7 linked regions of the Homo sapiens genome follow. The protein of the gene in region 5 purifies or fractionates together with the protein of the main gene of each other region. This does not show direct contact. Each region holds a gene or a part of one and is shown on either strand. Other genes may lie near its edges. The genes, in order: PPP6R3, BMP2K, CLINT1, DLD, DNAJC6, CLTCL1 and PIK3C2A.

The links.
Region 1: the proteins of DNAJC6 (region 5) and PPP6R3 purify together in Homo sapiens (affinity purification with mass spectrometry, with the first as the bait; one large-scale study listed by BioGRID). This does not show direct contact.
Region 2: the proteins of DNAJC6 (region 5) and BMP2K purify together in Homo sapiens (affinity purification with mass spectrometry; one large-scale study listed by BioGRID and IntAct). This does not show direct contact.
Region 3: the proteins of DNAJC6 (region 5) and CLINT1 purify together in Homo sapiens (affinity purification with mass spectrometry; one large-scale study listed by BioGRID and IntAct). This does not show direct contact.
Region 4: the proteins of DNAJC6 (region 5) and DLD purify together in Homo sapiens (affinity purification with mass spectrometry, with the first as the bait; one large-scale study listed by BioGRID). This does not show direct contact.
Region 6: the proteins of DNAJC6 (region 5) and CLTCL1 purify together in Homo sapiens (affinity purification with mass spectrometry; one large-scale study listed by BioGRID and IntAct). This does not show direct contact.
Region 7: the proteins of DNAJC6 (region 5) and PIK3C2A purify together in Homo sapiens (affinity purification with mass spectrometry; one large-scale study listed by BioGRID and IntAct). This does not show direct contact.

What each region holds. Positions count from the first base shown.
Region 1 is NC_000011.10:68,568,752-68,572,251, reverse strand, and holds part of PPP6R3 (serine/threonine-protein phosphatase 6 regulatory subunit 3), read right to left. Parts: intron 2,505-3,500; coding exon 2,355-2,504; intron 1,213-2,354; coding exon 1,148-1,212; intron 1-1,147.
Region 2 is NC_000004.12:78,870,350-78,873,849, reverse strand, and holds part of BMP2K (BMP-2-inducible protein kinase), read right to left. Parts: intron 3,068-3,500; coding exon 2,790-3,067; intron 2,001-2,789; coding exon 1,902-2,000; intron 1,237-1,901; coding exon 1,052-1,236; intron 1-1,051. UniProt on the Homo sapiens protein: May be involved in osteoblast differentiation.
Region 3 is NC_000005.10:157,849,146-157,852,645, reverse strand, and holds part of CLINT1 (clathrin interactor 1), read left to right. Parts: intron 1-3,500. UniProt on the Homo sapiens protein: Binds to membranes enriched in phosphatidylinositol 4,5-bisphosphate (PtdIns(4,5)P2). May have a role in transport via clathrin-coated vesicles from the trans-Golgi network to endosomes. Stimulates clathrin assembly.
Region 4 is NC_000007.14:107,894,183-107,897,682, forward strand, and holds part of DLD (dihydrolipoyl dehydrogenase, mitochondrial isoform 1 precursor), read left to right. Parts: intron 1-3,500. UniProt on the Homo sapiens protein: Lipoamide dehydrogenase is a component of the glycine cleavage system as well as an E3 component of three alpha-ketoacid dehydrogenase complexes (pyruvate-, alpha-ketoglutarate-, and branched-chain amino acid-dehydrogenase complex).
Region 5 is NC_000001.11:65,389,543-65,393,042, reverse strand, and holds part of DNAJC6 (auxilin), read right to left. Parts: intron 3,497-3,500; coding exon 3,416-3,496; intron 613-3,415; coding exon 178-612; intron 1-177. UniProt on the Homo sapiens protein: May act as a protein phosphatase and/or a lipid phosphatase.
Region 6 is NC_000022.11:19,236,220-19,239,719, forward strand, and holds part of CLTCL1 (clathrin heavy chain 2), read right to left. Parts: intron 3,170-3,500; coding exon 3,056-3,169; intron 1-3,055. UniProt on the Homo sapiens protein: Clathrin is the major protein of the polyhedral coat of coated pits and vesicles. Two different adapter protein complexes link the clathrin lattice either to the plasma membrane or to the trans-Golgi network.
Region 7 is NC_000011.10:17,162,987-17,166,486, forward strand, and holds part of PIK3C2A (phosphatidylinositol 4-phosphate 3-kinase C2 domain-containing subunit alpha), read right to left. Parts: intron 1-3,500.

The sequences.
Region 1 (3,500 bases), on a different chromosome or scaffold from region 5:
CAAGAAGACTGGAGGTTGGGAAGGACACAGAGAAGCCAAGACGGAGTCAGACATATAACCAGAGATGTCAACTGGGCCACAAACAGCATCTCCAAAGAGCTCCATTTGGAAGAATGTATCTGAGGTCTACCAATACTAGCCCCTTGCCACAAACAAACAAACAAAATGCCAATTTCCCACATGAAGCCAAATCAAAACCCTAGTAGCAGTGCTTATTAAACGATTTAAAAAAAAAAAATCAAACCTCACAAAGTAAGGCTGACTCCCAAGAGTCATCTAGCTTTCCTGGAGACACAGAGACACATAACAAGAATGCTGGGAAATGATCAACTACAAAGGACCATGAGAGAAATTTTGGGGGTGACAGAAATGTCTTGATTGTGGTGATGGTGACTTCAGGCATCAGTCAGAATTCCTAGGAATGTACACCTAAAATGAGCTTTACCATATGAGAATTATATCTCAATAAACCTGTCTTAAAAACAAACACAGAAGCATGCCTTCAGAGTGTTTCCCAAACACGCCCTTATGCCACCATGCTTCAGAATCTACGGGGTGACATAAAGGCTTCCAGGGCACTAGAGAGGAATGCTGTTACAGACAACACCTGTAAGAAAACGTTTTGTGTAACAAAGCTACTTACATGTATCAACTAATACTTCACATAACCTTGCCAATCAGCTAACAAACATTTTCTAAAAAGAAAACACTGAGCAATTTTTTTCCTCTAGGTCCCTGTACAAAGCAACTCTTCTCTACAATGAAAATATGTACGTGATACCTTCTGTTCTGAGCATAAGGTGACCAGGACAAATACACTAAGTCACATCATCAAGGACTTAACTTTAACCTTATAACTCTTAGAACAGTAGCCATTCAAAAAGGACCAGGAAGTTTCAAAGGCAGCACAGAGGTGGGGAACACTCCGAACTCACTTGTTTTGCCCCAAAAACAAGAGGACCTAACAAGAAATTATTAGTATTATAAAAACAACTGTTACAATGAAATAATCTGGGGAAAAGTTTAAATTGTAAAATGGCCAGTATCATGTAATTATTTCCATTTTTTTCTGACTAGGGCAAGGAGGTATTATTTTCCTCATATTACCAACCAAACTGAATTCCTTTCAAAAAAACAATTTACTTACTGTTTCTTCTCATTCATTTCCCAGGCTTCAAGTATTCGTTCTATTAATTGACATTTTTGGAAAAGCTGAAAAAAAAAAAAAGAATATTCCAGTTAATACTTCAAAGCATCAAAACTTTAAAGTGAAACAGAACTCTAGGTTAAAGAGAATAGTAGTATGCATAATCTAGCAAGCTAAATGTTACTAAGCCAAATGCAATGTGATCATCAATCTACTGCAGACACCCACAACACTACAGAGATTCAAATCAGGATCCACACCCTCCACAGAACATCTACAGGAAACTCAGTATTATAGGTAGTGCAGTTAACTACCTATAGTTAACTATAAAGGAAAGCCAGGTTTTATTAGCTGTGAAAATTCAGAACAGAAATATAAAACCTGAGCTAAATTAAAATGGAATAAAGAAAACTATGCCTTGGCAAAAATTTAACTTAGAATCCAAAGTAATGCTTGTACTTTTAAAATGTGAGCACGTCTTACTTCCAGATGAACTAACATTACTGCATTAATATTAAAAACAGGTGGGTTTTGCCCAAAGTCTGCAAGTCAGTGACAACTGCTGTAGGCTGCAATACTGGAATGTGCAGGGCTAGTTCTTCTCAGGTGTCATTTGTCTTTCCCATCAACTTGGCTGTTCCAAGCTAGCCTTTTCTACATTTTAGGTTTGCGAGTAAACCAAGTGTGGGCTAGAAATTTTAAAAGTACCATAGAACTACCAAGCAAGAAAAAATCTGAAGACTGACTTAGTAAAATTATCTCATATTTGACAGAAGAGAAAAAGAGACCCCAGGAAGACTCTCAACATCACAAAGAACTCAGTTCTCCTGACTTTCAGTCACGTATTCAGCAAAGAAACTACACTCTGGTCAGCCAAATAATAGTGCAAATGTTTTCCATAGTATTTAAATTTCTATGATTCTTCAAATCATCAAAGAATTTATATATCTTCAAACCTATTAATTTTACCAAATAAGGAGGCCACTTAGCTTTTTTCTTACAAGACTGTTCATTTAATAGTTATTTGTCCAGTACTTGATTTATATAATGATTTATATGTTAAAAGTGAAACGAACACATGATTGTCAAATATTTAGACTCTGAAATCTAACCTCAAGCCCTTTAAACCTCAATTCACATCACAGTCAAGTGGAAAACTGCTATAACCAGGAGAGAGTGGGAGAAAAACGAGACCAAATAAGCTTACATGTTTTAATAACAAATTATCACCAGTGGAGTCTTGATCGGTAATTGTGGCATTTTCTGTGTTTTCAAAAGGACTTGCAAGAATCAGTGCAATACAAATTTCCACTTGTGTATGCAAAAAGTTATTCCATGTATACTTGAAGAACATGTTCTACAAAAAAGAAAAACCATGTTTTATTCGGTTACCTCAATGTTTAAGCCAATACTTAAATACATTTACAGAACAGTGATTTAATAAAGTAAAAATGATGTGCTCTCAGTCCAAAAGGACCAATTAAAAGGAACCTGAGTTCACATTAGTACTTGCATAACCACAGTTTCATTTTCTGTGGTTTCAGTTACCCACAGTCAACCATGATCTGAAAATAGGTGAGTATAATACAGTAAGACATGCTAATCCAAGAGATGACATTCACATAACATTCATTACAGTATAGATTTATAATTGTTCTACTTTATTATTAGTTATTATTAATCTCTTCCTGTGCTTAATTTATAAATTAAACTTTGTCACAGGTATGTATAGGAAAAACACATAGTATATATAGGGTTCGATAGCTGTGGTTTCAGGCATCCAAAGGAGTCTTGGAAGGTATCCCTCATAAATAACGAGGACTAAATGGGGATGTGAAGTATTGCTTTAGAGCCTAAATGGCGTGCTATCTGCTTATCTGACATGCCAGAACTGGTATGGAATCTAGTAAAAAACCAACAACAAACATACAAAGACAAGAGTACGTTTCTCCAAGAGAAAGGGAGTATCTTTTTTCTCTTCAAAGCAACTAACACAAATAGTTAGCGTGGTAAATTTTCTATAATTTTCAAAAAAATTTATAAGAGGCCAGGCGTGGTGGCTCATGCCTGTAATCTCTGCACTCTGGGAGGCCGAGGCGGGCGGATCACGAGGTCAGGAGATCAAGACCATCCTAACACGGTGAAACCCCGTCTCTACTAAAAATACAAAAAAATCGCTGGGTGTGGTGGCGGGCGCCTGTGGCCCCAGCTACTCAGGAGGCTGAGGCAGGAGAATGGCGTGAACCCAGGAGGCGGAGCTTGCAGTGAGCCAAGATCACTGCACTCCAGCCTGGGCGACTGAGCCAGACTCCATCTCAAAAAAAAAAAAAAATTGTAAGAATTTCATTTTGAT
Region 2 (3,500 bases), on a different chromosome or scaffold from region 5:
TAGACAAAATTGTCCTAATTCATCCACCCCAATTCTTACTTTAGAAAAGTAGTTCAAGAAATCCATTCGTTTCTGTCTCCCTCTCTACCATACCCGCCCCACCATCTGTCTCTTGCACATGTGCACACACATGCATGCATGCATACACACACACACACACACACACACACACACACACACACACACACACAGAGGTTGGGAGGCATTCTATAGCAAACTGCATACTTTAGCTCTCTTTTGAGATGCAGTGTACAAGTATGCTACTGATGCTGCTGTTTCTCCTGCTCAACTCTGAGCCAAAGCTTATAGACACCTTTTCTCAGCTAATGTTTCAAATCCTTAAACAGCATTGTATGAGAACTTCAGTGTTCATGTAACAGAAGTCTAACAGCTCCTACCTCCTAGGTATCTAAAAACATTAGGAGGCATTGATGATGATTCTTAGTTACAAGATGCTAAAGCACGTGCCATTTTGTATAAGTTTAAGAAATTTTGTACCAAAGTTATTTAATTTATAACGCTACTAACCAATATGTCTCAATAGCCAAAATATACTATTACCAACTATGTTACGGTAACAGTATGTATACTATATATCATCTTAAAATACATATATGTAAAAATGTTTATACCTATTTAAATTAAATTATACAACCTTTATGAGTAAACAGTAAAATTAATCAAAGGTAATAACATGTAAATAGAGAAAGTCTACAAGGATTTTTTTTTAACTGCTGAAGTCACTTGTTAGGGTGTTGTTTATACTTACATTACCAAAAATGCCTTTACATACAAGCCAATAATATCCTTAGCCCTAAATGCTGTTAGATGTTGCTACACCTTACCTACAAATAGCAGTTAGCAGAATTAACTGAGGAAACGGAAGGATGGGGATGCCAAGGGACCAGAAGACAGGACTAGGAAGAGAGAATGGGTGGCTCTACAGAAAGATAAATTCTAAACTAATTTAAGAGAACTTAATGACCGACCATTCAACGATGACTTCCACTTCCACAATAATTTCCTTTGCTTTCACTGGAAAAATACTTGCCTATTGGCACTATAGGAGGAGTCCATTATGGTTCCAACCTGAGCTGGAAGTGATGAAGTGTAGGAAACTAAGGCTGGTGAGAACTCTTGAGGGGAGGTAAGATATTCAGGTGATGCCTGTTGTTGAGACGGCTGATGTTGAGCTAGCATCTGCTGTTGAAAGAAAGCCTGCTGATACTGCGGCATCTGAAAAAAGAAATGATATTATACAAAACAATGCTCCAGTCCTAAAGCACTGTCAGCACTGCATCTATTTACTATGTTCCTTCCTTTCACATTGGTGACAAAATCAGAAACGTAAAAAACAATCATCTACAGAAGCAGCTCTATTACTAGAAAACTACAGCAAGATGAAATAAATCTTTTTAAAAAGTTGTAAAGGTAGGCTCACTTGGCCAGAATCAAAAATCCTCTTTTAAGTATTTTAAGAAAAAGAGTAGCTTAAAGTCACTAATATAGTGGTTGCTGTTAAAAAAAAAAAAAAAAAAAAAAAAAAGGTCAAATTATTCTCTGAAGAAAATATACTCTCCCTTTGGGTTTCATTTTTTTACTCAATAGATATGTGCTGAATGAAAGAGACATGTGACGAAAGACTATAGGTAAGACATCATTTCCCTTATATAATGACATAAGAGAAGTACGTTATCGGTCAATTACTATGTGCCATATTCAGGTGCCATAGTTCAGTGCAATTTAAAGCTGCTTGAGAATATATGACTGGCTTTGATAAAATACATGTCAATTAACTTACTTGATTTTGAATTACTAAATTCTGAATAATATGATTCATACTGTGAATTCCAACACCATAATGTATACTCAGAGAAATCTCTAGAAATTATTTAAGTTACCATTGTAGGATACTGTGATGCAGAAGGTTGTGGTTGATATACCGAATGCATTAAAAATTGTTGTTGAAGCATCTGTTGCTGCTGTGTTGCATGTTGATACTACAACGAGAAAATCAAATTAATAAATGTTATGCCTTTTTTGTGTCAGAGCCCTTTTTTAAAGTATTGATCTTACCATAATGATTTGAGAAATCAGTAGTCCAAACATCAATACAAAATAGCTATACTCTAAATTACTATAATTTATTAATAAATATGCTTATCAGAACTGGTTTCAAAATTATCAACAATTAGATTCAATTAAAACCATTTTTAGCACAATTTAAGGATGTTTAGAAGAAAGCTACCAAAACACATTTACTACCTTTTCCTAGAAGATAAAGACACCTGAGTGACTTCTAACCAAGCCCCATTACACTAAATCTCCCCTTCAGTGGTGTCTTCTGGGCATCCCATGGTACCACCTACTTACTACCCTCCACTCTGGATCTATCAACCAAAACCAGGAGGGTGACAAAAATCTAAGACAATGTTACTTCTGAAAAGCCTAATATCACCTTTCCAACAATAGCATTATTAGTCTGTGAACTCAAAACGTAACCTCAGATAATATTCATTATAAACTGCAGTGCTTATTTGTGAATACTAAATGTTTCAGATGAACATTCTTTTCTTCATAAGGCCACAATGCAACCTATTTTACAGTATTCTTAAGTATTTCACTGATTGCAAATTAAATACGTATTCTTTCATAATTAGAAAATTGGGGAAAGTGTTTACTCAAATCTAGAGTTCAAGGTGCCCATGATACAAAAAGGAATTCACTGATATTCAATTTGCTGCATCAATTTCACACTACTTCCATATCTAAAGAAACAAAAAAATTACCTGCTGCATATAAGCATCTTGAAGTAGGTGGTGGTGGTGGTGGTGGTGGTGCTGCTGCTGCTGCTGCTGCTGCTGCTGTTGCTGTTGCTGCTGCTGCTGTTGCTGTTGCTGCTGCTGCTGCTGCTGCTGCTGGTGAGGATGACGATGCTGTAAATGGAGTTGCTGTAATCTCCAATCTCCCTGCTGTAGTTGCTGGAGTACTCTATGCTGCTGTGGCGGCTGCTGAGGAGGTCCCTGACCCAATAAAATTTCAGGGCCATTTCCAGGTCTTAGTGCCCCTAAAGACAGGTCCAAACACTTACATTAACATACTAATGATTTCAATTAAAAAGCTGGATTTCAACATGCTCATTTCAATAATAATTTAACTAAGGCATTTATATCCTTATTTATAACACAAAAACTTCCATATGCATAGAGTTTATAGGGATTTACTTTAATTGTAAGTACCGAAGAAGCTTAATTTTGTCGTCTACAACTCTGAACAAGTCAACATCTTAGAAACACTTCATGTTTCATACTTCGGCTCTCCATGAACACAACATCCATGTTAGTTTGTTCTACACTGCTCAACAATATCATGTACTATCATGAGTATGTATTAGTACCAATATAATTCTCTGTCTAGAATGCCACTTTCCACCTAGTGAAATTCTTATTCTTTAAAGTTTAGCTCAAACCTCTCTTCCTTATTCCTTCATCTAGCACTTC
Region 3 (3,500 bases), on a different chromosome or scaffold from region 5:
ATAGAGATGATATTTTATAGGATTATGAGGATTAAATGTGAAACAGTATAGTACTTGACATACAGTAAACTCTTGAAACATCTATTACTGTTATTACTGTTACACACAAAACAGTATAACACTAGAAAAATCAAAGGAATACAGTGTTTGTGAAAATAGAGATATCATTGTCAGACTAGGTTATTTGTAAGTATGTAGGAACTATATCTTCATCCATGAAATCATTATTTTCAGTGAGTACTCTCTCTTAAGACTCAGTTTAGCCTACATATAGGACAGCTAATTTAAATACCTCTGTTGTTTATGCCTTGTATTATTTTTGCTAAATCATAAATGGCTTCTACTTTAATATTGCAAAGCATATTGCAGAAATACCCTTTCAAAAGACATGTTGAGGAATAAAGTCTTTGGAAAGACATATCGCGAATTCCATCTGCCAATTCTTAATATTTTGTTCAGCTTGTTTTGTGTATTCTCAAGATTTTAAAGTAACTGCTAATGTAAAACATTACTAAAACATAAAAAGATTTATTTCATAAATGCAAATTGAAGCAGACAATTTATTCTTAAGAGACTGAACAATATCAAGAAAAAGAATCCTCTAAAATATGTGATACCAAATTCATGGTGTTTGACAATGGACAAACAGTATATACAAGGAAAGCACATTGGAGAAAGGGCTTTCTGGTTATTCAACCCCTCAAATTGGCAAGAAATTATTTGGCTTACCAGGGCTCTTTTGCCTGAAAATTAAATACAGGTAAAGGAACGTAATATATTCCTATGTTTGAGCCAATTTATAGCTACTTATTACTTGTGGATAGATTTAGCTAACGAATTATTAAATGTGAGTGATTTTGTTAATGTGCAACAGTGCACATGAATGGTTTGTACTTCATTTAAGAAGAGTCTAGTTAGCCAATTTTAGAATATTTCATTTCTTTTTTTTTTTTTTTTTTGAGACGGGGTCTTGCTCTGTCACTCAGGCTGGAGTGTAATGGTGCCATCTCTGCTTCAGCCTCCTAGGTTTAAGCGATCCTCCCAAGTAGCTTAAGCGATCCTCCCAAGTAGCTGGGACGACAGACACATGTCACAACACCCAGCTAATTTTTGTATTTTGGTAGAAATGGAGTTTTGCCGCATTTCCCAGGCTGGTCTCGAACTCCTGAGCTCAAGCAATCTACCCACCGTGGCCTCCCAAAATGCTGGAATTGCAGGTGTGAGCCACTGTGCCTGGCCTAGAATATTTGTTTTGACATGAATTTTATTTAGCTTCTCAATTCTTAGGACAGTATTTAAGTTCTAGATAACTTTAATATAAATAATCTTTTATAATTTTGCACACACTCATCATTATGTGGTAAACGTACATGCGTGCTTTTTCAACAACTATTGAATGAAATGTTTCATTCAAGAATTCTCATTCAAATAGCTTATATTTTTATAGTAGAAAAAAGGCATGCATTGAAAATTCAATTTTCGGGTTTTTTGTTTGTTTGTTTGTTTGCCATTTGTTTTCATGCATTTTTAGTAAATCATTAAAGAACAGTGCAAGGCCAGGTGCCGTGGCTCACAACTGTAATCCCAACACTTTGGGAGGCCGAGAAGGGAAGATCTCTTGAGCCCAGTAGTCCAAGACTAGCCTGGGCAACACAGACCTTGTCTCTACAAAAAAATTAAAAAATTAGCCGGACATGGTGATGCATGCCTATAGTCCCAGCTACATGGGAGGCTGAAATGGGAGGATCACTTGAACCCAGGAGTTGAAAGCTGCAGTGAGCTGTGATTGTGCCACTGCACTCTAGCCTGGGCAACAGAGTGAAACTTTGTCTCTAAAAAAATTTTTTTTAATATTAAAAAAAAGAACAATGCTAATAGGCATACTGAGCCTTTTTCTATTAATTTTTCTCATACTAATTTTTCATTTATCACTTTTTAAAGTGACTTAGGTTATACGGTTGAAACTACATGTCTTAATTTGTAGTTAAACCCCCATGGTTAAATAATTTTTTTTTTTTTTTTTTTTTTTTTTTGAGACAGGGTCTCACTTGTACCCAGGCTGGAGCGCAGTGGCATGCACGATCTTGACTCACTGCAGCCTTGACCTCCTGGGCTCAATCCATCCTCCCACCTTAGTCCCCCAAGTAAGAGGGACTACAGGTGCTTACCACCATGCCCGGCTAATTTTTTGTAGAGATAGGGTTTCATCATGCTCCCCAGGCTGGGCTCAAACTCTTGAGCTCAGGCAATCCGCCCGCCTCAAGCCTCCCAAAGTGCTAGGATTATAGGCGTGAGCCACTGTGCCCAGCCAGTAATATCCTTAGTTTGATGTATTTGGCTTATAAGTTCGGTACTGAATGGGGCTTTGAAGGATGGCCTGTTTCTCACTAAGCATGTAAAATGTTTAGCCCTGTCATCTGCTGTCCACTCAGCAGCGAGAGGGATTCTTTAAAAATACTAAGTCAAATGGGTTCAGAATTCTCCAGTGGCTTCTCATCTCATTGCTTAATTGCCTGTACAGATCTGGCTCTTTGTTGCCCCGCCTGTGATCTCTTCTCCCACCACTGTCCCTCACTTTCTCTGTTCTGTTCAGTGGACCTCCTGTATTACATAGTATGCACTCACACTCGTCACTATTTTTTTCTGTGCTTGCCTTCCTCTGTTACATGTATTCATCTCCTGCCTCTGATATGCAAGTTCCTTGAGGGCAGGAACTTTGTTTTGTTTACTGCTGTATTACTAACTCTTAGAACAATTATGACACATAGTAGGCGCTCAAATATTTTTGAATGAATACATTAAATTTGGTAAGTTGATATTTATTACAGAGGATATCCTTTAAATCCAGATATTTCTAATAATAAAAGCTAATAGTTATTGAGCATTTGCCATGTGCCAAGAACAAAGGTGACAACATTGTTATGTTCAATTTTCTTATGAGGAAATTGGGCACAGAATGCCAAGAGTGTGCCACAGATAGCACATCTAGAAGATAGTCTAGATTTAAATCTAGATGATATACTTTCAGAATATGTATTTAGCAGTTTATGCTAATCTTTTACAAGACATCATGTAAACAAAAAAATTGTTATACAGGCATACCTCAGAGATATTACAGGTTTAGTTCCAAACCACTGCAATAAAGTGAATATTGGAATAAAGCAAGTCATACAAATTTTTAGTTTCCCAGTTCATATAAAAGTTATGTTTCCACTATGTGGTAGTCTATTAAATGCACAATGGTATTATGTTTAAAAAAGTACATACCTTAATTTAAAAATATCTTATTGCTAAAAAGTACAGCCATCTGAGCTTTCAGCAGGTATTTATCATTCTGCTGGTGGAAAATCTTGCCTCCATGTTGATGGCTGCTGACTTATCAGGGTTGTGGGATTGCTGAAGTTTGGGGTGGCTGTGGCAATTTCTTAAAATAACAATGAAGTTTTCTGCATCATAGATTCTTCCTTTCACAGATGATTTCTCTGTAGCATGCAATGCTG
Region 4 (3,500 bases), on a different chromosome or scaffold from region 5:
CCTGTCAGTACCAAGGATATTGATTATTTGCAATGTACTGTTTTGACATTTACTGAATTCACCCATATGGATTATAAGTAACATTGGATGTCTTAAAGCTTCAGTTATAGAAATCATTATCTGGGCAAACTGTGACTATCAGTCTCCCTGCATTCTGTGAAGTAATTTAATCCTGTATCCTCAACTGTTATCCAACCATTATCATTTTGGATATTTTATTTCTAGAGGAAGGGTAGGGGGAGGATTCTAGTAACCCATGACTAACAGTGAGTGAGTGATTTATTCTAGCTTTGAACAGGTCAAGAAATCCTTTTAAAAAAATGCTAATATGATGATGAAGGGAAAAGTTGGACCTCTTATACACTTTGTCTCTTGTTAAATAGGAATCTCATTCTTCTCAACTCATATAACAGGAGAAATGTTAGATTTTCATTTCTAAAGGATATTTTTCATGGCTAACTCTATACCTTTGGCATCACTCAGCAGAGATTATTCAGTGCCTTCTATTTGCCAGGCAGACCCTGAGCCAGAACTTAGATTTTAGTGGAATGAGGCTGAGTGTTCCATAATCAGTTTGGTGATCCCTTGACATTGAGTAAATCATAAATCACTTAGTACCCATGTGTGTAAAGTGTGTAAAAGCTTTGAGTGGATGCAGTAACAAGCATTTTACACACATACTTGTATTTTATCTGAGGTACATGCTTACTGTCTTTTCCTCAGGAATGCAAACTTCATCAGGACAGGGACTGTGTGTGACTGTTTTGTTTAGTATCTAAAGTGATACAGTAGGTAATCAGTACATATTTATTGAATGAATGAACACTGGGGCCTGGTCTGTTTTAATTACTGCTCTGTGGCAAAGCATCCAGTATGGTGTCTTGTACAAAGTAAGTAACCAGCTACAACAGCAATAATATTAACTGATGCATTGAGGGCTTCACTCTGTCTCAGGCACAGATTTAATCCTCATGGCCTTTCTACTACCTGTGTGCTGCTGTTCTCCCCATTTTATAGATGGAAGAGTTAGGTTTTTTAACTAGGAAATGACAGAGCTGGGAGAATCCTTTTGACTTCAGAGCCTACACTGTTAATGTTTTATTGAGTTTTCTTCCTTACATGAGTATTGATTGACTCTCCTGAGGAGTTCAAATCTTATTATGATATAGTCTTGGTTACAACATCTGAGAGATGTCTGAATAGCCTTATGAACCAGGTTCATCAGAATTTGCAAAGTTGTGTGTGTTACTGTTGATGTGACGTTTTATTTCATGACAGCACTTAATCAAACTTGTAACACTTAAACTTACAGCACTTATATCACTCACATTCACTACATTCATTCATTCTTTTATTATTTCGACAAATACTAATATCTACTATGTGTTAGTCATTGGGCTAACTACTGGAGTACCGCAGTGAGCAAGACGGACAAGACCCAGCTTTTATAGAGCTTACAATTCAGTTGAGGGAGACAAACATCCAACATATAATTGTGACAGGGGTCCATAGACTTAAGCATAGGGAGTAATGACATCTATATATGGATTGGGAATGGTCACATAATTCTTTCCTAAGGAATTATGTTGATAGCTAAAAAGGTTGAGAGTAACTCTCGTTACAGGTTGGACCTTTTACTGTAATTCTTTTTTTTATTTAGACTGTAAGAAATAGGGCTATGTCATTTATATATACACACACACAGACACAGCATGTGCAGACACACCCCTCCAAGAGCCTAAAGTAGTGTTTGTAATGTGAAATGCCTGCTGTTAGTGTTTATTTCTAGGTAGATGGAACAGATCGTACATAGGTAGACCAGCATAATTCTATGCATGTAGGCTAAGAGTAGTAATTCACCGTTACTGAAGCTTAAACTGCATGGTATTGGTGAGTAAACAGAACGTGGTAGGAGATGAGGCTGGAGAAATAGTTACTGAAGGAATTTGGATGCTGTACTTAGGAACATGGGCTTTATCTAACAAGACACTGGAGAACCAACAGAGCGTAACAACAGAGAGAATAACATCTGAGTTGGGTTTTAGCTTTGCGGTAGCACTGGGTAGGCTAAAATGGAGGATGTGAATGAGGCTAGAGGCTGCTGGACTGAAGTTTGGAGGTGGATCTGAGAAGGGGAGTGACACTGAGTTGCTAGTATGCACCTAGCACCTCCTTAGGATCTTAACATGCGTACTCTCTGATCCTCACAACCCTAGGCTGCAGGTGTCATCCTTACTATTACCCCCATGTTGTATCAAAGCCCAGAGAGATTGAGTAATTTGCCCAAGAACTTAACGGGGTTAGAGTTTGGAACCCAGGTCTGTTTTACTTCAGATCATTTCTTATTTTACTATATTTCTTCTTTAGGGACCAGGAGGTTATGACTAGAAAGTAGAGTATTGATTTCAGAGGCTGAACAGTTTTGGGTGATAACAAGTATAGAGTGTTAACTATGGGAGGAGGTTACTGAAAAAGACTGGATATTAAGGCCATTGACAATGTAAAAACAACTTCCCTTACCCCTCAACAAAATGTCAACAAATAAACCTTATCAAGTAGTTCTTACATTCAGTAAATTTGGTAATTAATGATTATTGCCTTATGACATCTCTTTTCCTGTTCGTTTTTTCTTTTTAAAAATCTGGTTTTGTTTTTGTTTGTTTTTTTTTTTGAGACAAAGTCTCGCTCTTGTCCCCTAGGCTGGAGTGCAGTGGCGTGATCTTGGCTCACTGCAACTCCACCTCCCGGGTTCAAGTGATTCTCCTGCCTCAGCCTCCCGAGTAGCTGGGATTACAGGTGCCTGCCACCAGCCCGGCTAATTTTTGTATTTTTAGTAGAGATGGGGTTTCACCATGTTGGCCATGCTGGTCTCGAACTCCTGACCTCAGGGGATCCACCCACCTCGGCCTCCCAAAGTGTTGGAATTACAGGCATGAGCCACCGCGCCTGGCCAAAAATCTGATTTTACCTTTATTTTGACATGTGCCTCTTTTTTCTCACTGTGTTTTAAGGTTATTGAAGGTACTGATGAGTCATAAATATTTGATTTCATTCTGTAAAGCATATTCTTGTCATTTTAGTTGAAGTTCTTGATTGTCCTGGAGATTATGGGATCATCTGAGTGTTTTGGAAGGCAATAGAACATAATGGTATATAGGAGCACACATTTCAGAATCTAGAGGACCTTGTTTGAATCCTGGCTAGATTACTTACTAGTTGTGTAGCCTTATGCAAATTATTTAGTTGTTTTCAACCTTTTCTTCCTCTGTTAATGGTAGTATTAAACTATGTCATAGAAATGTAATGAGGCTTACATAAGACAGTACACGTGACTGGCTCACTAACTGGCACATTTTAAGCTACCCAAGTGGTAGGTATTATTGTAGACTGACTTTTTTTTTTTTTTTTTTTTTTGAAACTTGGTCTCACTCTATCATGCAAGCTGGGGTGCAATGGTGCGATCTTGGTTCACTGCAACTTCCACCTCCCGGGTTCAGGAG
Region 5 (3,500 bases):
GGACAATATTTCTATTTTCTCTTACGCTCTCAATTTAAATAAAGATACAGACCTCCTCTAAAGGACTTACAGTGAAATCAGAAAAGTCTAGCTTATTAGGAAAGTTCAATTCCACCTATTTGGCCCAAAGGTTAGAATTCAAATCTGAGAGGCACAGTGCAACATAGAAAAAATTACCTTCTCCCACTCTTAGGGTTGGAGACGCAGAGGTGGAGGTGGCAGAGCGGCGTGGTGTTGACTGGGTAGACGCAGGTCCACTAGGATGAAACACATCTTCCACTCCTGACTGTCCAGCCTGGGTGGGACCAGCTGCACCTCCACCCCCAAACAGGTCACTCAGTAGTTCAGAATTGGTGGGAGGAGCCGCTGGCGGAGAGAAGCTGTTACTCATTGCAGACCCTTCCAGGCCCAAAAGGTCCACATCCTCAGGGGGTGGAGGGGCTGCTGGCTCCTGCTGCTTTTTGCTGGGCTTCTTGACTCCATGAGGCTTGTCACCATTGGCATTGCCATGCGGACTGGAAAGTGTCAGAAGTTCATCATCTGATTGCTCACTTTCCTGATTCACTAGGGCAGCGTGGTCCTCCTCACAGAATGACTTCTCCGATTTCTGATCTGAGGAAGGCCAGTATACCATAAGAGATTAGTTGCTGACCACAGCATTGTTGGTTTTTGTTATAATATATGTATATAATTCCAGAAAGACAGAAGGATTCAGCCCTGAGCAAACAGTGTTTTTAGACCCTAATCAGTGGAACACTTGATGTATTTCACGTTACATTCAACTACCACTTGTTGAGCATCTGAGAGGCAGTAGAGCATAGGGGTAAGGAGCAGGAACTCTGGAGCCAGCCTAGGACTGAATCTCAGCTTCACTACTCACTGGCTCTATGACACTGGGCAAGTTACTTTACTTCTCTGTGCCTTGGTTTCCTCCTCAGCAAAGTGGGGATAACAAATTGTACCTAACGGCCGGGCGTGGTGGTTCACACCTGTAATCCCAGCACTTTAGGAGGCTGAGATAGGATCACTTGAGGTAAGGAGTTTGAAACCAGCTTGGCCAACATGGTGAAAACCCCATCTCTACTAATAATACAAAAATTAGCTGCACATGGTGGCGTGTGCCTGTAATCCCAGCTACTCGGGAGGCTGAGGCATGAGAATTGCTTGAACCCGGGAGGTAGAGGTTGCAATGAGCCAAGATCATGCCATTGTACTCCAGCCTGGGCTACAGAGTGAAACTGTGTCTAAATAAATAAATAGTACCTAACTCACAGGCTACTGTGAGAAATACATGAGATGATATTATAAATCACTCCAATCAATAGTAAGTAGTACCTAAGTGTTGATTTTTTTTTTCAGGCACTATGCTAGGTGCTTTGGCCGGGGAGGGTAGTACAAACCATTATCTGCTAGTCATTTGCTGACACTTCTCACTGTCTTTACTTCTCCATGTGTCCTGTAGCCAAAAGCAAATCCCTTCTCTAACAGTCTGGAGCAGAAGTGAACCACACATTTAAAAAGTGAAAAGAAGAGCTCTGCTGTGAAAGGTCCTTATACCAGCTTGAAAGGGGTACTTTCAGCACAAAATGAGCAGCAGGAAAGAGGCCTCCTCTGGGGAAGGAGTGACCTTCTAAGCCCTCCCTGAGATAGATCTTCCCACAAAAATTTGATATTTAATGCCAGATAGACCCACATTCCAAGTCAAGTATGGATCCACATCCTTTATTCCAAATTATAAAATGTAATAAGCTATGAAAAGGAAAAGATTTTCCTAAGTTTGGCATGAATTCAGTTGGTGGAAAACTGACAGACGTGAATATGAAGATACTTATAGTCTTCATTTATCTCACTTAGGGCTATTGTTTATATGTTCTACTGCAGAAATATTAATATGTTTGATTATAGGTTATTATCTGAGATATCACTTGGGATGTCAAGTTACATCACTTTATGTAGCATATCATCCTTCTAAAATCCAAAAAGTTCTGCATTCCTAAACATACCTGGCTCTGAGAGGTTCAGACAAGAGACTGTGCATCTATACTAAAACCTATTTCAGAGTCTACAGGAATTATCTCTAAATTATTTGCTAAAATGACAGTGGAGAGGAAAGAGTGAAGTTGTATTAAAAGCCCTCGCTGTGAGGAAAATAAGAGGTAAGAAAGGCCAACAGGGGATAAGAAATCTACCTACTGTCCAGATACCACTGGGTTTTCCAAATTTGAGGATTTGCTAGTTCCATTTCTCGAAAGAAAATTCTGAAAGTGAGTCTTTCAATTCAACGGAATTTTATGAACAACTTTTTCATCAAACTGAAGCCTGCAGGCGATGGGAATATTATCTTACATTCACACAACAGAGGAAGGTCAATCAGGATAATTTCAGATAAACCATACCATAGCCAGTTTCCCATGCCTTTCATACCCAAACACTGACTACCCACGTCTACACTGAATCTCACAGTTAGCCTCAGCCAGCTCTAAAGCAAGGATAGCCAATGGGTATTGATTAGGATGCCAACGTCAGGCTACTGCTGGCAGCAGCTGGAAGTGTTATATTGAGGAGGATTCTGAAAATATCTCCAGGTTTGAGAGAAAAGAACCTAGTAATCGAGCCCTTATTTCTGGTATGGCTGTTAAAGCAAGAGCAGAGATATACAGGCCAAGTGTTTGCTTTCTCTGCAGCAGGGTAAGCTCAGTTCTGCCCTGCTAGTGGTTAAGGCTCCCTGGGGGGAATGCTGATTTGATATTTTTATAATATTTAGTTGACAGCGGAAGATAGAATCCTGTGTTAATCTCATTACAGAGGCAGCAGTCTAAAGGGAGATCATAAACAAATCACACTTATTTGTCAGTCCAGGAATGACGTGACCAAAAACACAGCAGAGAGAAGGGAGAATTCAGTTTAAAATGGCCTTTTGCATCAGTCTAAGAGCATCTACTGAGTTGAAAGTAGGGAAGTTGCCTGATTTGAAAAGGGAATGAATTGGAAGGATGTAAACTTGAATGATGTCTTTTAAAAAATTTTTTAGAGATGGAGTTTTGCTCTGTCACCCAGAATGCAGTGCAGTGGCGCAATCATAGCTCACTGCAACCTTGAACTCCTGGGCTCAAGCAGTCTTCCTGCCTTAGCCTCTGACATAGCTAGGACTACAGGCATTTGCCACCACTCCCACCTAATTTTTTAAAATTTTTTGTTGAGATAGGGTCTCACTATATTGCCTGAGCTGGTCTTGAACTCCTGGCCTTCCTATCCTGGCCTTCCAAAGTGCTGGGCTTACAGGTGGGAGTCCGTGTGCCTGGATTGAATGACCTCTAAGTGCTGCTTTAATGTAGTCTGCTTCTAGGGCCAACATCTTTACAGAAGAAATACATAATCATCAAACCATGTGACTTAAAGAAACACTTGTAAATACCTTGCCAACAGAGAGAGGCAAAGAAACCACTTTGTCCGTAATGCCTGGGGTTGTCTGGAGGGATATCTATTGGAGCCTGTCCTGC
Region 6 (3,500 bases), on a different chromosome or scaffold from region 5:
AGTTTTAAAGACAATATTTTGTCCAACCACTCTCAAATAAAGGTCCAATAAACTCAGGCTACTCCATTTATCTTTCAGGTAGAGCGATCCTTTCACAGTTTATCGAACCCCTTTAAGCAAGCTGTGAGTTCATAAGAGAAGGGGAAAGTTCTGGACAAAGACCTCAAACGCCAAGATGATGTTCCAGCATGCCTTCTACCACCACTTATTAACCTTTGAGTTTTGCCAAATGCTATTAACTTTTACAGAAAAATATTTAACACACAAGAAAACCTGAAGGGGCTGGGGAGAAAAAACAGATGCATTTGCCCAACCAGATTATTAAACATATATATTAAAACAGACAGTAATTTTTGAAGTATGATTTTACCACTGGAAGAGACAGAGAGAGAAAATAATTAAGAGCCCTGAAAGAGAATGAATCATATATGAGAATTTATTAAGAATGAGTGTGTGGTGGCTAATGACTATAGTCCCAGCTACTTGGGAAGCCAAGGCAGGAGGATCACTTGAGCCCAGGAGTTTGAGTCAAACCTGGGCAACGTAGCAAGACTCCAACTCTAGAAAAATAAATAATTAGTAGGTAACATATTAGTGGAAAATAGGCACTTTAATCAATATATAACATATATTATTAATATAGTTAGCTAGCTATCTGGAGATGGAGGTAAGAGTAAAGAACTGAATTTCTATCTTACTCTTTAGATCAAAGTAAATTCCAGATGGGTCAAAGATTTTAAATAAAAAACAAGGACAATTAGGATAGGAATGAAAGAAAATATAGGTAAATGTTGTGATCATCTTCAGGTGCAGAATTAGTCTCAAAACATGATACCACTGCCACACAAAAATGCAGCACTTCCATAAGGTGCCACATATCACAAATTACGACTGGGAAAAATATTCAAAATACATCAGACACTTAGTACTCTACAAGTACAAAAAGCTCTTACGAATAAGGTAAAAATCCTGGAGTTGGGCACAGTGACACACACCTGTAACCCCAGCTGCTTGGGAGGCTGAGGCAGGAAGATCGCTCGAGGCCAGGAGTTCAAGACTGGCCTAGGCAACATAGCAAGACCCCATCTCTACTTTTTAAAAAAAGATCCCAATAGAAAAAAAATGCAAAGATTAGGAAAAGGCAATTAACCGGATACATATGAGTGGCTGATACATCAATTCTGCCTTGATGGTAACCAAGGGAAAGACATCACAACATGGGATGCTGTCCAGCTACCACCGGCAGCATCAGTAGGAATGTGAACTGGCCAGCATGGTCAGGAGAGTCTGTGATGAGAGTGTGCCCCTGACCCAGCAGTTTAATTTCTAGGAATTTATCCTCGGACTTTTAGACTAACATACAAAGATGTATGGAGCACAATGTTCCTTATAGTGTTTCTTGTAAATGTAAATACCAATCAACAGGGGATTGTTTAAATGAGTTGTAGCAAATCCACAGAACAGATGACACAGACAATAAAATACATACATTATGTTACTGGAACAGAATGATCTACAACATAGCTAGAGGAGTTTATACAGCAGCAAGGCTAGTGCAGAGCCATTTTCATAAGAGTCCATCTGTATAAATCTGCACAAATGTATGCATGTTAAGTTACTTCCAAAGGGGTAGCCAAATTATCAGCAGTGCTAGGATTTCAGGTGATATTTAATCCTGCTGTTACATTTATTGATATTATTAGAAATGTACAGATAACATATATTTTATGAGAACAAAAGAGTAAAAAGGAGAGTAGATTATATAATCTTACATATATAATGTGATGCCAATTTTGTTCAGAAAAGGTATAGATCTAAATTTTTTATAAAACAAATTGTAAGATTTTTTATTTTTATTCTTATTTATTTATTTATTTATTTTTTGGAAATGAAGTCTTGCTCCAGGCCGCGGTGCAGTGGCATGCAGTGGTGTGATCTTGCCTCACTGCACTCTCTGCCTCCTGGGTTCTAGAAATTCTCCTGCCTCAGCATCCCATGTAGCTGGGACTACAGGTGCACACCGCCATGCCCAGTTAATTTTTTATATTTTAGTAGAGACGGGGTTTCACCATGTTGCCCAGGCTGGCGTCGAACTCCTGAGCTCAGGCAATCTGCCCGCCTCGGCCTCCCAAAGTGCTAAGATGACAGGTGTGAGCCAACGCGCCCGGCCAAGATTTCTTATATATTTTACATCCAACTGGTTTATCTACAGAGGAATGTTTTCTGACTCTGTGCCTTTGACACTTCCACAACAATATTCTGCTCCTCAATAAGGAAAGCACACTTGATCCTGTCACGAACACACTTAGCACACACGGAACCACCACAGGCCCTGCTGACATGTGTTTCTGTTTTAGGGAACCTCACAAGAACTTCAGGTCTCATAGCACGAACTCCTCGAAGTCTGGCTAGGCACATGCCACATGCAGGTTCAGGTGTTTTCCCAACCTTCTTGATGTAAAGGTGAATAATTCTCCCACCAGGGGCTTGGGACTACCTAGTTTCACTAGAGGCTGCGTGTCAAAGGCTGGGCCATTCTGAATGCCAGCTCAAAGGACTGTCCCTGGGAGCTCTAGGCTCCCTCAATGGCAGCCAATTGTAAAGGAAATAAGTGTTTTATTCTTTTTTTTATTATTATAAGTTCTGGGTTACATGTGCAGAACGTGCAGTTTTGTTACACAGGTATACACGTGCCCTGGTGGTTTGTTGCACCCATTAACCCGTCACCTACATTAGGTATTTTATTCTTTAAATATTCTCATACCACAGTGAACATCTAATCTTTTATAATAAGAAGGAAAGAGCTGAGGACTTTGATGTGTGACTTGGCAACGTCTTCCTGCTGCCCTAACTCACCCTCATGCCGGGCATTCCTTTCTACGAACAGGGCTTTCCCAGCTCACACGCCAAAGCCTTAGGCCTCTAAATGGGTTTGAAAGCATCACAGTGGCAGGAGACAGCAGAAGCAGACTAAAAATGGCAGCCTCCTGTATCTTGGGAGGTGCTAGAGTAGATTTTAGGACATGAAGATGTTTAGAGAGCAGCACATTCGTACCTGCATAGCCACTGGAAAATCATTCTGTGCCTCTGGAGGAAAAAACACATCTACTGCTTTCTTTACAAAAGGTTGGTTTCCCGCTGCAGGCTGTCCAACTTCAATGATGTGCAACTAGAAGAGAGATTTTAGGTCAATCAAGGGGACCGCCTGTGGTGGTGGGCAAGTGCTAGTCAAGGCACAGAGGCAAGTGGAGCCTCAGCTCCACACACTGGATGATTAACGCTAAAAGTCACATTCAACCAAAGCAGAACAACCCCCTTGTCGGAGTGCCTGTGATTATCCAATAACCTGCTGCCCACCACCAAGCATGGCACAAAGGGCCAATGCCAGGCAGCCTGGAGCCTCAGTTCCAGCACAGTGGCAGAGTCACTTCCCCTCCCCGGGCCTGGATGCCGATGAAACAAAGGGCTCCAGTCAGAATCTGCTGTCCCTTCCAACTCTG
Region 7 (3,500 bases), on a different chromosome or scaffold from region 5:
TTCACAGAAAAAAATATATAAACAAATAGGACTTGTTTGGCCAGGCACGGTGGCCACGCCTATAATCCCAGCACTTGGGGGGACTGAGGCGGGTGGATCACTTGAGGTCAGGAGCTCGAGACCAGCCTAGTCAACATGGTGTAACCCCAACTCTACTAAAAATACAAAAATTAGCAGGGCATGGTGGCATGCACCTGTAGTCCCAGCTACTCGGGAAGCTGAGCCAGGAGAATCACTTGAACCTGGGAGGTGGAGGTTGCAGTGTGCCGAGATCACGCCACTGCACTCCAGAGCCTGGGTGACAGAGCGAGACCCTGTTTCAAAAAAACAAACAAAAACAAACAAACAAATAGGACTTGTTTAATTTTAAGTTTTTCTATGCAATGTATTTTAACTTTCAGCCCTTACTATCAGTTATTCCTTTGTTTTTTAGACACAGGGTCTCATTCTGTAGCCTTGGCTGGAGTACAAGGGCCTTATCATCATAGCTCATTGCAGCCTCAAACTCCTGGGCTTGAGATCCTCCTACTGCAGCTTCTTGAGTAGCTGGGACTACAGAATAGCTGTAGTCCCAGCGTGCATCACCACACACAGCTATTTTTTTTTTCTATAGACACGGGTCTCCCTACATTCCCCAGATTGGTCTCGAATTCTTGGCCTCAAGCAATCCTCCCACCTCGGCCTCCCAAAGCACTGGGTTTACAGGCATGAGCCACCAAACCCACCATTCTACCAGTTGTTTCTATTATAATCTAGCACAGATTGTCATCTAATGTAACACAAAGTAGTATACTTAATATATTTAACGTACTGAAAAAATTAGTATATCAACATTTCATCCTGTTTTATAAGAGCACCATGACTTTCAGGTATTCTACTTCCTGAATTGGTTTGAAAATGTATGTCCAAAATACAAAACCTTAAAAAAAAAAAAAAAGTCCACTTCCTCTTCCACATGGCAACTTCCCAAATTTTAACTATTATTTATGAAAGGATCTAGTCTAGCCAACTTTATTTCATAGATAAAGAAACTCAGATTCAGTGATTTAACTCCAATTAATATTCTCTTCTTCAGACAAAATGCCTCCAACAGTTCCTCAAATGGCATACGTTCTAGATCCTGAAAACTACAGTCTTCTCTTTTCAAGACATACTCTAGGCTGGGCACAATGGCTTACACCACAGGGAGACCTCATCTTCACAAAACCCAAAAAAATTAGCTGGGTGTGGTGGCGTGTACCTATAGTCCCAGCCACTCAGGAGGCTGCATTAGAAGAATCACTTGAGTATGGGAGGTAGAGGCTACAGTGAGCCGTGATCGCACTGCTGCACTCCACCCTAGGTAAAACAGTGTGAGACCCTGTCTTAAAAAAAAAAAAAAAAAAGACAAACTTCAGTTTCCTTACTGGTGGCCCCTCTTAGGATATACTCAAACAAAATTATTAGATGGGGTTTGATTAGAGTATAATGGAATGATGAACACTTCCTCAGCCATGCTGCAGTTAGACTGCCTTAAGACTGGCAAGTAGCCTAAGCCATGTCAGTTCAGATAGCATGCTATCAGTAAAGCTGTTGATATGCTACACTGTAGTAATCTAGCTCCACTCTCTGATTGATCCCCTGATCAAGTCATATTATTGCTTACCCAGTTTCTGACTCATATCTCTCATAATCCATTTGCTTACTACTTTAATCCTTCCCCTATATTTTTTAACTAAGATCTAGGAACTTGTTTCTGCTAAAACTAATCCTGTTTGGCAGCCTAGTTAATTAATTCCTAGAGTTTGAGCAACTAGCAGCTCTCTGTAACACCTATGTGACTTGATTACCCAGATCTTGCTAGGCAAACTTCTTCCTATCTTTAGGAAACCACCCATCCTCATTATTCCTCCAAGATACTTTCTGAAAGCACCCCAAATAAGGAAAATATCAAGATGGTACTGTGACAAATATTTTAAATACATAAGAAAAAATAAATGTAGGGAGACTTACATGGGTGTCACACCCCTGCCCCACCAAAGGAAAGGGTGGAGAACACATGTGTTGAACTAGGAGTGACCAATCTAAACTAAAAAGGTCAAGCAGGGGCAGGAAGTTGAGTTTCGCAATGAAAGCATTAACAACCTGTGCTTTGGGTTTTGAGCTGAAAAGAAACTGTTCCCAGGGTACTCTATTTTCACATTTGCTATTTGTCTTGTCATTTTCCCAACTTTATAGGCTCCTGAGTATGAATAAACTTTAAAATAACCTAGTCAAGAGGTCCCAAATGGAGGTCCAAGGGGGAAAGTTTTGAAAAAACTGGTTATCTTCCCCCTGAAATTCCATACTGTCCTTTGACACCCCTTCCTCCAAATCAGGACTGAGTAGGCCTAAACTCTCTAGGATACTGTGACATATAACTAAATTTGGGAAGCCATTTGAACCATATTTGAATATCTCCTATGACAGGGAACTTACTCCTTCCAAAATAGCATGTTGTATCACTGGAGTTTGAAAAAGGGAGGGCTGGCAGACCTTGGTGGCTCACGCCTGTAATCCCAGCACGTTGGAAGGCTGAGGCAGGCAGATCACCTGAGGTCGGGAGTTTGAGACCAATCTGACCAACATGGAGAAACCGCGTCTCTACTAAAAATACAAAATTAGCCGGTCGTGGTGGTGCATGACTGTAATCCCAGCTACTCGGGAGGCTGAGGCAATAGAATCGCTTGAACCCAGCAGGCAGAGGTTGCGGTGAGCTGAGATCACGCAATTGCACTCCAGCCTGGGCAACAAGAGAGAAACTGTCTCAAAAAAGTGAAAAAAAAAAAAAAAAAAAAAAAAAAGGGAGGGCTTTTAGAGTCAGATGGGTTTGAATGTCAGAACTTTGCTGCTTGCAAAGAGTTCTGCAGCCCTCTCCTTGACCTCCAACTTGTTATCATGAAAATTTTCAAATATACACAAAGTAAATAATAGAATAAACACCCAGGTATCCATCATCGGCTTCAACAATTATCAACATATAGCCAATCTTGTTTCATCTATAAGCCCTCCAAACCCCAATACCTCACTTGATTTTACTACATTTTAAATTCTACAGTATACATCTCTAAATATAAGATTCATTTAATTAATTGCAATACCATTATTACACCAAAATATTAACAGTAATTCCTTTTAACTTCTTTACATCTCAGTTTCCTCAACTGTAAAATAGGGATGGGTCATACTCTGGCCTCATAGGATTCTTGTGAGCTTTCTGTCTCAGTGATTAAAAAAAAAATGCAGAAGAGTCCTTTGGCTTTGGCAACATATTGGTAAAAATAATAATAAATAAAGAGTTCGGTTTGAGTATGTACAACATAGATAAAAAGCATGTAAGTTCTTGGGTTCCGAATCCCAGTCTTGGAGCTTTGGACAGTAAATAACCCACCTACCCAGAAACCTCAACTTGCTTAAGATGATGACTACATTGCATCTGGAATGGTAATATCAGCTTAGCTGGGATAATCTATTTCTCTCAG